Regions from separate parts of the Homo sapiens genome. Here region 2 is linked to region 1. The links come from fine-mapping of genetic effects on gene expression. Tissue or cell type: whole blood. Region 1 holds a variant in brackets; the other region holds the start of a gene. All regions are shown on one strand. Distances are between the middles of the regions.

Region 1 (7,584 bases):
TACACATTTGCTTCATCAGCACATGCAACATTTTCCAGGATAGGCCACATATTAGGCCACAAAGAGGTCTCCAAATACAAAAGAATTGAAATTATATCAAGTATCTTTTCTGACCACAATAGCATAAACTAGAAATCAGTAACAAGAGGAACTTCTGAAAATGTACAGATATGAAACAAAACAGAAAACCCAGAAATAAATCTATGTATTTGCAGCCAACTGATTTTTGACAAAGGCACCAATACCATAAGTTGGGGGAAAGAACAGCTTCTTTAATAAATGAAGCTGAGAAAACTGGATATCTATATGCAGAAAAGTGAAACTAGACCCCTATCTCTCACCATACACAAAAATCAACTCAAAATGTATTAAAGACATATATGTAAGCCCCAAAACTATGACACTACTAGACGAAAACACAGGGGAAATGCTTTGGGACAGTGGTCTGGGCAAAGATTTTACGGAAAAGACCTCGAAAGGACAGGGAACAAAGCAAAAATAGACAAACTGGATAATATCAAACTGAAGCTTTTGCACAGCAAAGGACAATCAACAGAGTGAAGAGAGACTTCAACAGACTGAAGAATGGGAGAAAATATTTGCAAACCATTCATCCAAAAGATGATTAATACCTGGAATATGGAATACTCAAACAACTCAATGACAACAAAAGGAAATAATCCAACTTAAAAATGGGCAAATAAGCTGAAAAGACATCTCTCAAAAAGTCATATAAATGGCCAACAAGTATATTAAAAAATGTTCAACATCACTAATCATCAAGGAAGTGTAAATCAAAACCACAATGAGATATCATCTCACTTCAATTAGAATAGCTATTATCGAAAAGACAAAAAATAACACACTGGCAAGGATGCAGAGAAGGGAATTCTTACACACTGTTGGTGGGAATACAAATTATTATAGTCATTATGGAAAAGAGTATAAATGTTCTCAAAAACCTAAAAATATAACTACCATATGGTCCAGCAATCCTACTGATTAGGTATTTATCCAAAGGAAAGGAAATCAGTATATCAAGGAGATATCTGCATCCCCATGTTTATTACTACAGCACTGTTCACAATAGCTAAGATATAGAATCAATCTAAGTGTCCATCAACAGATAAAAGAAAAAAGGGGCCAGGCGCAGTGGCTCACGCCTGTAATCCCAACACTTTGGGAGGCTGAGGCAGGTGGATCACCTGAGGTCAGGAGTTCGAGACCAGCCTGGCCAACATGGTGAAACCCCATCTCTACTAAAAATACAAAAATCAGCCAGGTGTGTTGGTGCACTCTTGTAATCCCAGCTACTCGGGAAGCTGAGGCAGGAGAATTGCTTGAACCCAAGAGGCGAAGGTTGCAGTGAGCCAAGATCATGCCACTGCACTCCAGCCTAGGTGACAGAGCAAGACTCCATCTCACACACACACAAAAAGGAAATGTGGTATATATACACAGTAGAATACGATTCAGCCATAAAAGAAGAAAATCTTGTCATCAAAGTTGTGCTCGTAAAACTAGAGAATAGAATGCTGATTACTAGAAGCTGGGAAGAAGTCAGGGAAGAGAAATTGGGAGAGGATAATTAATGAATACAAAATTAAAGCTAGATAGGAGAAATATGTTCTAGTTGTTCTAAAGTCCTATACAACACTGTAGGATGACTATAGTTAATAATAATTGATTGTAAATTTCCAAACAGTTGAAGAGAGGATTTTAAATGTTTCCAACACAAAGAAATGATAAAAGTTTGAGGTGATGAGTATGCTAATTACCAATTTGATTATTACACATTATACACATGTATCAAAATATCACACTGTACCCCATACATATGTATAATTATAAAAATAATAAAAGTAAACAAATCAATATAAATACATACATACATACATACATCCACTATGGGTAGCACAGGGAGAGCTCTGATGCGCATGAATTTTAACATGATTTCTATGAAACAGATTTAATTTTACAGACTCAAAAAAAAAAGTATAGCCCTATCTCACACCCTATACAAAAATGAACTCAAACAGATAAAAGACCTAAATGTAAGAGTAACTGTAAAACTCTTAGAAGAAAACATAGGCATAAATCTTCCATCCTGAGATTAGGCAACCCTTCTGACACCAAAAAACATAAGCAAAACAGCAAAATTTAAAACTTTTGTGCATCAAAACATAGCATCATGAAAGTAAAAAGAAGGCCAGTTGTGGTGGCTCACACCTGTAATCCCAAAATTTTCAGGGGCCAAAGCAGGAGAATCACTTGGGCCCAGGAGTTTGAGACCAGCCTGGGAAATATAGTGAGACCCCATCTCTACAAAAAATAAAATATTAGCTGGGTACGGTGGTGCACACCAGTAGTCCCAGGTACTTGGGAGGCTGAGGCAGGAGAACTGCTTGAGCCCAGGAGGCAGAGGCTACAGTGTGCCATGATCGCACTACTGCCCTCCAGCCTGGGCAATAATGCAAGACCCTGTCTCAAAAAAAAAGAGTAAGTAATAAGACAACCCACAGAATGGAGAAAGTATTTGTAAATCATACATCTGATAAAGGTCAATTATCCAAAATATATAAAGACTTCTACAACTCAACAATAAAAAGACAACACAATTAAAAATAGGAAAAGGATATGAAGAGGCATTCCTCTAAACAAGATATACAAATGCCCAATGAAAAGACACTATATGTCATTAGGGAAATGCAAATCAAAGCCAAAATGAGATACCATCTCACATCCACAAAGATGGCTATAACAACAACAACAACAACAACAAAAAACAAAACAGACAACAACAAGTGCTGACAAGAACGTGGAGAAACTGGAACCCTCATACATTGCTGGTGGTAAGGTACAGCCACTTTGACAAACGGTGAGGCACCCTCTCAAAAAAGTTAAACACAATTACCACATGACCCAACAATTCCACTCTACATGTAAACCTAAGAAAAGTGAAAGCATACGTCCACACAAAAACTTGTACACATATATCCATAGCAGCACTATTCATAACAGTCAAAAAGTAAAAACAACCCAAATATCCATAAATTGCTCAATGAATAAACAAAATGTGATATATCCATGCAATGGAACATTGTCAGCCATAAAAAGGAACGAGGTCGTGATGCATGTTACAGCCTGGATGAACCGTGAAAATATTACGCTACATTAAAGAAGCCAGACACAAAAGGCCACACAACGTTTGATTCCATTTACACGCAATATCCAGAATAAGCAAATCTATACAGACAGGAAATACACTAGCGGTTGCCAGGGGCTGGTGACAGAAGGGAGGAGTGAGTTACTGCTCAGTGCGTACAGGGTTTCCTTTTAGGGTGATTAAAATGTTCTGGAATTAGACAATGGTTGTACCACTTTGTGAACATAATAAAACATCACTGAATTATACACCTTAAAGGGTCAAGTTTATGGTGTATGAGTTATATCACAATAACAAAATTTTTAAATCTCTATACCAACTATTTTTCCCTCAGCAGCCAGAATGAACCTTTTAAAACACAAAGTAGACGATTTAACTCCTATGCTCAAACTTTGAGATGCTCTCCCATCTCACTTGAAATAAAATTCAAAGTCCTTACCTTAGCCTACAATGTCTTAAAGAATCGACTTCTCCGATTTGGGTAATGGGTATACTAGAAGCCCAATCCCCAGCAGGTATGCAATATACCCATGTAACAAACAAGCCCATATACCCCCTGAATCTAAAATACAGAATTGATTTGTCTGAATTCTTTGCCTATTACTTCTCACCCACCTCCCCACATCCATGCAGCCACCGGCCTCCTGGCTCTTCGTTAGTGTGCCAACCACTCTGTACCCTCAGGGTCTCTGTCTCTTCCCTCTACCTAGAAAATCTTTCCCCAGATAAATGCAAACCTGA[G/T]ACCCAAACTCCAAATCTCAACTCAATGTCACTTCCTTAAAAAGGCCTTACCTGGCCACCCTACCCCTTCCCTATTTTGTTTTCCTCATAACATTTATCACAATCTCACGCATTATGTACTAAATTTATATATTATTTATCTTCTGTCTTACTATACTAGAATATAAGCTTCATGAAAAAAGAGGCTTGGTTTTTGTTCATGGTCATATCCCTAGAACCTTAAACAGTGTCTGCCAACTAATAGATTCCCAATATGATCTGTTCAATGAATAAATAAATTAATTTAATAAAATGTAAGAGAAAGTCACAACTAGGTCCTTTGAGATATTATCATATTAATAGAAACCGCTCACCTGTTCCAGGTTATTATACTGCACACGGCAATAACTGCAATATCCTTGTCTTTTCTGCATCTTGAATAAATAACTGAAGTCAGATGGCTACTGTCTTTGAATACTCAAGCTGAAAAACAAAAAGAAAAATGGTAAAAATCATAATTCCTTACTCTTATGAGGAAAATGGCTATGATAATTAGCAGAAAACAGAAATTCACTTCTAATAATTAGGAAAATATACAAGGCTGCCATGAGCCACTGAATAAATAAGTGAACCTGGAGCAGAGACAAGAACTATGTATCTTATGAAAGAGCAGTTTGTTGCCAATGTTTGAAGACTAGATGACTGAATATTTAGTTTTTCTAATAACTTATTAGAGATATTAGATATTGATTTAGTAACAAAGAATACAATATTCAATTTGCGAAGACCAATTACTTCTAAGATATTGTTATGGTATATTTACTATACTCTAATGGAGCTCATTAATTTCCCCATCATGTTTCCATATCAAACCCCAGATTATTTGACAACGTCTCATTCTCTGTTATCATGAGTGTAAAGACACCACATGGCATTTTCTGCTCAGCTCATAGAGAGGCAGGTTTTTAAATAATTTATCCAACACAGTTGCTAAAAATCAGAACAACTAATTTAGCCTCTGAAACACAAAACACTTTTCTTCTGACAATTATGTAAGCCAGATAAATAGGAGGGATTTTTTTCCTATTACTGTTTAGATTTCTCTACAAATAAATAGTTTTCCAGTTTCCACTCACCTAAAAGTATAATCCTTCAACATTACATACTGCATGGTTCCCAAACCAGGCTGAATACCCAAAATTTTAGTAGAGCTAGGGTGAGCCTAGGATTCAGAATTTTTAAAATTCCCCCAGTAATTTTCATGCCCTACCAATGTATTAACTGACACAATGTACATATAATTTATGATTATTTTAAGTAAAAAATTTAATGCAGTTTATTTGCTGCTTTGTTAAGCCGAAAACAGAATTACAAATAATTTTGTATTTCAATTAATTTAAGCATTCTTATCTGTTGGAAAATATATAACAATCATTCTATAACATGTTATGAGAATTTCTGCAATGGAAAAAATTTAATCATTAAAATCAATAACTGAAAAATGAAATCACAGCCTTAAAACCATAAGATGAGGGGAAAAAAGCTTCATTAAGTCAAAATGCTAGCATAATATTTACTTACCTATTACTTCTTATTATGAGAAATTGATTTTCTGACTTCTCACATTTATGAGGAAAATTAATCAATTAAACCAGCCTCTGACACAAAAAACATGTAAGACATTACTTACTTAAAATTTGGTCTCTTTTCCACTAATTTACTTCACTTATTAACCTACAGCAATAAAACAGAACAAACTTTTATTTTAAATTGTACTTACACATAAGGCAAATTTCAAGCTGAGAGAACCTAGAGCTTAAATGTAAACTTTGAAAAATCCTAAAATAAACTTTTGGGGGATTGAAAATATAATTAAAACATTCATTGAATAAAGGACAAAAGTAAACCATTAATCTAATATCACATACACACAAAATGTAAATACTTAAATATTTTTGGTCTTTAACCCTATGGCCCTTAACTCCTGTGGCATTATCACCTGCCACTTCCGTCATCTCTAGTGCCTTAATGACAGTGAGTTACAATAAACCAGAAGCATGTGTTGGCATTTTTAAAAATTAACATGCCAGGACCCCATCAGAAACTTAGCAAATCAAAATCCCAGTGGTCAAGGGAACCCAGGACATACGTTATAAAGCATATTTAAAATGCTCAAGGCAGCTGGGCATGGTGGCTCATGCCTGTAATCCCAGCACTTTGGGAGGCCGAGGCAGGTGGATCGCCTGCGGTTAGGAGTTTGAGAACAGCCTGGCCAACATGGCAAAAACCTGTCACTACTAAAAATACAAAAACTAGCTGGGTGTGGTGGCAGATGCCTATAGTCCCAGCTACTCGGGAGGCTGAGGCAATAGAATCGTTTGAACCCAGGAGGTGGAGGCTGCAGCATGCCGAGGTCACACCACTGCACTCCAGCCTGGGTGACAGAGCGAGGCTTTGTCTCGAAAAAATAAAATAAAATAGAATAAAATAAAATGCTCAAGGTGATTCTGCTGTAAGTTGACTCAATAACATAAGTCATTATTTTTTATAAACTAATAAAACTTATTTATTAAAGGGATCATTTCTTTAGGGTCTGGATTTATATTACTTTGCATGCCTAAATAGGTATTTTTATACAAACTCTGAATTCTCCTAGAACCTGATATTTTTATAAAGTAAAAAATTATTTACCTGGAGCAGAAAAGGTCAGGTATTTCATCAGCTGTATTAGTTCTGGCAAGTATCTGTAAATTAAAATAAAATCATTTTTTAGAAGAGGTCCCATAAGTGTCTACCATTGACCAAATAAATACATCCAGATATATTGTGAACGGTGACATGTTTCCAATAATATAAGAAAAAATATTAACTTTGGAGTACAAAGCACTTTACATACTATGACTCACTGAATCTCACACATGACCTCCTAAAGTTCTGGCGCAGTGACTGTGATGGCCCATCTAACCCACCATCAAACACTGCAGGTCTCTAGGTTCCTGGAACAGTAGCTGTAAAAGACTATAAGGCTCAATTGTGCCTCTGGTAAAGTTGAGAGCAAAAATGCTGTCAAACCCAAAATGAGCTTCATGAGAAACTTCCCGAGGCTCAGGTACCACGTTAGCTTTAATGAAAAATACTGTCAATTCTTTTAACACCTATCTATATCAATACACTATTAAGCAGAAGCATGTTTTTTATTCCTCCGCATTGTTGTAGGCAAAGTGCTGCTCCTTATCCAGGATCACTGGTTAAGAAAAAATTCCAACACATAGGCTCAAGAGAGCCAGTGACACCACGGTATAATCAAAGAATAACTATTAAGCACCCACTCAGCACAGAGTTCCATGCTAGAAACTTTAAGGGATAGAGACAAATATGAGACAAGTTTTCTTACCCTCAAAAAATTTAAAATGAAATTGGGAAATTAAAGCCAAAGAATGAGGTGCTGCCTAAGAAATGCCTCAGCAAAAATAATAAATGCTAATGAGTTCAACGCAAAGTTCAGTTTTAGCTAGAGCGGCGAGGGATGCCACTGTGGATACGGTTTTTTAACCAGATACTGGAAAATGGGTAGGATTTACTCACTCAAAGGTTGGGAAATGATACAACAAGCAAAGGTACGAAAGTAAGAAAATACAAAGTACATTTGGAGATAGTAAATTAATAAATTCAGCTGAATCTAAGGTTTCATTTGAGAA
Region 2 (6,152 bases), 120 kb after region 1:
TCAACCTCCTGGGTTCAAGAAATCCTCCCACCTCAGTCTCCCAAATAGCTGGGAATACAGGGGTGCACTACCATGTCCAGCTAATTTTTATATTTTTTGTAGAGACAGGATCTCTCCCCATTGCCCAGGCTGGTATCAGCCTCCTGGTCTCGATCCAGCCACTTCAGCCTCCCAAACTGCTGGGATTACAGGCATGAACCACCACACCTGGCCTGCACTGCAATTTTCTAACAACAATGCCAAACCAAATTTGGGGTATTTAGGAATCACATATTCATTTAATTCCTTCCCCCAAAATGAAAGGAATATATACACCACCCTCCTATGTAACATACTCAAGAGCCAAAGGTAATCTTTCAATCTTTTATTTAAATGCCATGATCCAGGATGGATTTTAGATCTTGTTGAAAGCAGCCACATCCATGGACTGCACATAGTCCTCAAAAGCAGTGATCTGCTCCTCCAGCATATCTGTTCCAACTTTATCATCTTCAACTACACACTGTATTTGAAGTTTCTTAATTCCGTATCCCACTGGAACTAGTTTAGCTAAAAAGAGCATTAAGAAAAATCCTAGTTAGAAAAGTCTTGTAGGAAAGGTTGAAACTGTAGGCAAATTCCAGATGTTAGTTTCAAAAAAAAAAAGGCAAAGCCTAAACTCACATGAGCCCCAGACTAAGCCGTCTGCTTGAATGCTTCTGACGCACTCCTCTAATTTCGCCATATCTGTCTCATCATCCCAAGGTTTCACATCTAGTAAGATGGAAGACTTGGCAACAAGTGCAGGTTCTAAAAACAATAAACAGCATTATTCAAATAATGAATTGTATTTTTTTCACCCTACTCCAAGACACAAACAAATCCATCTCAATTTGTTTTGAGACTATCTCCTTAGCCAAACAAAACTACAGATACATCTTGTGTCTGTCACACATATATACCCACTTTCTGTTTTGCTAAGAAAGAGGTGTTTGTGTTAACAGTTTCTTTCCCACAGAGGAATGCCACAACTGCTACCATAAGAACAGCTGCAGACCAGTAGCTGTGGAAGAACCTGTACAGGTTTTAAAATATTGACCTATTCAAGGAATGTGGAGGAAATTACTTCAAGGTCAAGCTTTGAAAAAGATTACTTACATTAACATGAAATGAAGTTAAAAACAAATGACCTACTTTTGGCTTTCTTTGATTCATATTGTGCAAGACGTTCTTCCCTTAGCCTCTTTGCTTCTTCACTTTCCTGTAAAGAAAAAAAATTAATCCACTTCAGAAAGCTGGTTGTTCCTCTGCTTAAAGCTAGTGGGGTCATCACAAAAAAGACTGGCTTAATCAGAAAAAAGCAAATCCATCACGAACTCAGCCGAAAGATGGTGATTTGATTTTATTCATCATGCAACCAGTCAGAATTTGAAAAAGGCATATAAATTAAAGCCAGGATTCAAATCCAGGCAATTTGGCTTAACCACATTGATACAATTGCTGATCGATGTATTCTTTTTTTTTTTTTTTGGGACGGAGTCTCGCTCTGTCGCCCAGGCTGGATGCAGTGGCACGATCTTGGCTCACTGCAACCTCCGCTTCCTAGGTTCAAGCAATTCTCTGCCTTAGCCGCCTGAGTAGCTGGGATTACAGATGCCTGCCACATTTTTTTGTATTTTTAGTACAGACAGGGTTTCACCATCTTGGCCAGGCTGGTCTTCAACTCCTGACCTCGTGATCCACCCGCCTCAGCCTCCCAACATGCTGGGATTACAGGCATGAGCCACTGCGCCTGGCCGATATGTTCTTTATAGAAGACGCCATACCTCCTCATCATCAGATCCAAAGAGGTCAATGTCATCATCATCTTTACTATCTGTAGCTCCACTTCCTGTAGTGTCTTCCACATCGGCAGGACCATATTTGCCCAAAGCTTTCTTCACTCCTGGCAGGCTTGAAAAACATTTAAATTCAACCACTATTGAGCTAGTATAACATCCTTTTCCAGAAAATACAAAATAACTTGTTTTAATCACTACTTATCACTAGATCCCTTTTGCAATCATAATTTACCCTTTCACATGCGCCCAGGTAAACACTGTCATATGTTCAACTCCTCACCCGACAAGCATTAGTACCATGTGAGACATTATTTTCAATACTCACTATGATTTACTCTTTCAGTATGAACATTTCTGTTTGAGATTTCATTAAGTATGCTCAGTTCCATTCTTAGTGAACTGGAGTCCACTTCCCCAAACTTCCACCCTTGTTGGCAGTTTCAGAAGAATGGCCAAGGACTGAATGAATGAGCCACCCTCTCACCCCAGAGGTGGGCCCCCCAGGTCAAGGTCGAGGCACATTGGCAGGGCAGTGTGGGGAAAAGTTGAATTGCTGCTGTCCATGTTCTACCTGTTCTGTGAAAAAATGGAGGGCTTCAGTCTCTTGGCCTTCTAAGGTTACAGAAAAATTTAGCTTACAATATCCCAACAAAACTAAAGTAGCCTGGGTCCAGTTTTGTCATGTGAACATCCTGATAAACTTCGAGAGCAGTCTTATTCTTCAGCTCTATACAAAGATGATTTTACCTGGCCTTTTCCTTTTCGTAAGACTTGATGTGATTATACCAACGTAGGGCATGACACAAGTCGGCAGGCGGTGGGCTGGACACGGCTTCAAATACTGCCACATCTGCTTGTGATGGCACATACCTGCCAAGGACACAGAAACATTCACACACACCTTTGAAAAACAAACGCCAGCGAATAAATAATAAATACCGTATGCATCACATTAATTAGTGGGCACTAACCCCAGCAGGGTTGCTTTAATGCTTTTCTTTTCTTATTAGCTCCTTCAAATCAAACCATATGTTTGGGTCACCGCGCTATCCTGAGAAATGTCTGCCACTAAGTAGACCTCAAATACTGCAATGTCTGGCGTTGCTCTATCTACAGCTTAACATGTATTAACTGGGCAGCGATGCGGAAACACCTGGCTGAATTAAGTGTAAATAAAGCACATTTTAACCTTTCCTTGCTCGTGAACCGCTCCCCGGAGGCCGGGCTCGCCCCACACGAGGGCCTTGGGAGACGGCAACGGGGCGCTTTCCCCTCCCTCTCGAAAGGGCCCCGGGCCCGGCCTCCCTCCCTCCCGCGGCAGCCGACACGCTGCGCCACGTGGCCCCGGCCCCGGGCGGAGAAACCTCCCCGCCACCCCGACTCAGCCCGTCCGCTCACCCCTCGATGTAGCTCTTGTCCGCCAGGTAATCGTTGAGCACCTGGAGGCCGGCAGGGCTTTTCAGGTCTCCGAAACCCATGGTGTCGGCTGTATCCGAGAGCTGGGGAGCAGCAGAAAGAGAGCGCGCAAATTGTGGGCGCCCCACGCTGAAGAGAGGAAAAAGGACCCGAAGAGACCGGAAAATTCCTTATATAGAGACGGAGGCGTTTCCCTCCACCGCGCCGGACCGAAGGTTAAAGGTCAAAGTACTTTTGCATTCCCACTTCTCCACGTACGAATTGGGGGCCCTGAATTAAATGGCCCACAAATTGTCCATGGACCTTTCGTTGCGTTTGGAAGTAAATTAATAAAATAGGCATGTCTTAAGTTCGTACCTCCACGGCTCCCGAAGATGACGGGAACCAGCCCTAGAAGCGCCGGAGATGACCGAAGACGCCCGGCCTCGAGGCTGGGGCCACTTCCGGCGGAACTGCGGGTCCAAGTTGTCCTTCCCGCCTCCGGGCTGGGCCGACCTCAGCTCCGCCCTCTGGTCGGCTGACGGAAATTGCCGACAAACTTGTCGAATGCAAGGATTCTAGTCCCTCCGGGCTTTCCGTTCTCCAGGCCCGGCTGACAGAGTTAGCCGAGGCCGCCATATTGAATAAGCGACCCGGCCTCCTAGGGGGTCGTCGTGGTCCAGACAGTTTAGCAGAACAGCCTCCGCGGCTCCGGGGAGAAGGTGAGGTCTTGTATGGATGGGAAGGGTGAGGTGCGTCGGCCAGAGGCTTATTTATTGACGGGACTGTTTCCTTTGGCCCACGCGACGTAGTCTTCTGTTGTCCTTGACTGGGCGCCGCCTCCCGCCCCGCCGCCTCGGAAGCCCCTGAGAGCCGGCAGATGGGGGGCTTTTAGCCACGGTCTCTGGTCTGATGAAGCAGAAAAGAAGATGAGGATCAGGGGGTCCTCGGGAACGCTGTCACGAATGTAGGCTTGCAGGTGACCTTCCCTCTGCAGGGAAAATTCAGGACATTTCCCTCTCAGAGGAGGAGGCCGTTTTATTCCCCGGGAGAGGACCAGTGTCCGATGACTTAGGCCTTAAGACTAAGCCTTTCCCCCCAGATTTTTACACGCCTGATACAGTGCATGATTGTTTGGTCGCTGTTGTGTTAGCAATGGCTCACGCTTCTGTTTGTTGTCCTTGTTTGTTTGGTCCATTGACCACGTTGGACAGCATTTTTTTATTCCTTTAACTAACGGGAAATTGAGAAAAACGACTTTTGAAAAGTTAGCCCAGGATTGCATTGCAAATAACAAAACGTTGTTTACAGGTTATTGGGATCCAGTGCTTGAACTGTAAGGTCTTGGATCAGACACAACTCTGTTCACACACGAATTGACGGTATAGAAGTGTAACGTTAACTGTTTTTGATGAATAAACAAGTTATTTTTGTTTTGCGGAATATTCTTGTTTTCACCGACTTAAGGCTGCCAGAGCACCTGCACTTTTTAAATCCGGGAAAGTGGTCTCTACAAATTAACGACCAGAAATTAGAGATTCAGTTCACTTAACCGTTATTGAACATTTACTACGAGCCAGAAATGAGTCCGTAAAGAAGAATAAAATGGATGATATGCTGGGGGAATCGTAAATGTTAGATAGCCTGGTCAATGAAACTGAGAAAAGGCTTTTAAGCCAAGATTTGAAGGATAAGGAGGGGCCAGGGAAGAGCATTTCAGTCTGAGGTCACAGCCGGTGGCAAGAGGGGAGAGGCTGTGTGGGAATAGTGTGGAAGCTTGGTGACCTGTTAAGCTATTGAAGGCCGGAGGCGGTGGCTCACTCCTGTAATCCCACCACTTTGGGAGGCCGAGGCGGGCGGATCACGAGGCCAGGAGATCGAGACCATCCTGGCTAACACGGTGAAACCCTGTCTCTACTAAAAATACAAAAAATTAGCTGGGCGTGGTGGCGGGCGCCTGTAGTCCAGCTACTTGGGAGGCTGAGGCAGGAGGCTGGCGTGAACCCGGGTGGCGGGGCTTGCAGTGAGCCGAGATCGCTCCGCTGCACTCCAGCCTGGGCGACAGAGCGAGACTCTGTCTCAAAAAAAAAAAAAAAAAAGCTATTGAAATACTCCAGGCAAGGAGTGATGGTGGATTGGGATAGGGTGGTACCTTGGAAGGCAAGAAGTAAATGGATGGATCCATGTTGGAGAACGTGGAATAGCATAGTCCCTATATGGAAAAGTATCCAGTCTAGTTTAAGAAATGATTAGTCATTAACATTTTCCATCCAAAGAGATAATTATTTCTATTGCTACTTGGCATATCAATGTTCAAAGCACATATCGAAGTGTTGCAAATCTGTATTTCTTATGTTGGGCTATGCTTTGTTGCTGGATGTCAACAGTCTAGTTCTAGTTGATTTCCTATCCAAAGTGAGTACTATTTTTATATTGCATTGGAGATAAAAAAGTATTAAAGTTTTAAAATTGTATGAAATACTGATTGTTGATTTCAAATCTGTCAGTGCTCTAATGGAGTAAGTTTAGGTTTATATTTATGCCATCAGTAGTTTTTAATAGGACAGATGCTACTCTAGTTCTAGAACTTGGTGATAAGACTGTTTGGTGGTTATTTTCATAAGGGTCCTGTGCTAGGTCTTCAAAAAAGGGAAATGTCCAAATTCCTTGTCCTCAAGGAGCTTACAGTCTGGTAGGTACTAAAATTGATTACTAACCTACAGTTTAGTAAGTAAAACAAAAATATCTACACAGTGTGTACTGGTACTAAAGAAAAAGAGCTCAAAGAAAGAGTGCTTTAAAATTGGTTGTCTGCCAGGCGCGGTGACTCACGTCTGTAATCCCAACACGTTGGGAGGTCGACGCGGGTGGATCACTGAGGTCAGGAGTTTGAGACCAGCCTGGCCAACATGGCGAAACCCCTTCTCTACTGAAAAT

What was found. PIP is the estimated chance that this variant, and not a neighbour inherited with it, causes the effect.
Region 2: NDUFS1 starts here. The variant in region 1 is fine-mapped to the expression of NDUFS1 in whole blood (INTERVAL, PIP 0.94).

The regions. Positions count from the first base shown.
Region 1 is chr2:206,278,586-206,286,169 of GRCh38, reverse strand. It overlaps ZDBF2 (zinc finger DBF-type containing 2), which reads right to left. Exons shown (of 5, transcript NM_020923.3): 2 at 6,578-6,630; 3 at 4,261-4,369. The coding sequence starts at 4,320. Among named protein-coding and RNA genes, the nearest start is that of ZDBF2, 7.7 kb to the right of the region's middle. The variant G/T (reference allele first, on the strand shown) is at 3,908.
Region 2 is chr2:206,157,126-206,163,277 of GRCh38, reverse strand. It overlaps NDUFS1 (NADH:ubiquinone oxidoreductase core subunit S1), which reads left to right and starts at 3,834. Exons shown (of 19, transcript NM_005006.7): 1 at 3,834-3,937. It overlaps EEF1B2 (eukaryotic translation elongation factor 1 beta 2), which reads right to left and starts at 3,383. Exons shown (of 6, transcript NM_001959.4): 1 at 3,219-3,383; 2 at 2,568-2,690; 3 at 1,806-1,932; 4 at 1,174-1,240; 5 at 664-789; 6 at 350-549. The coding sequence starts at 3,298. The coding sequence ends at 395. It overlaps SNORD51 (small nucleolar RNA, C/D box 51), which reads right to left and starts at 1,397; the gene lies at 1,328-1,397. It overlaps SNORA41 (small nucleolar RNA, H/ACA box 41), which reads right to left and starts at 1,050; the gene lies at 919-1,050. RefSeq lists a silencer at 3,047-3,116 and enhancers at 3,377-3,636, 3,747-4,156.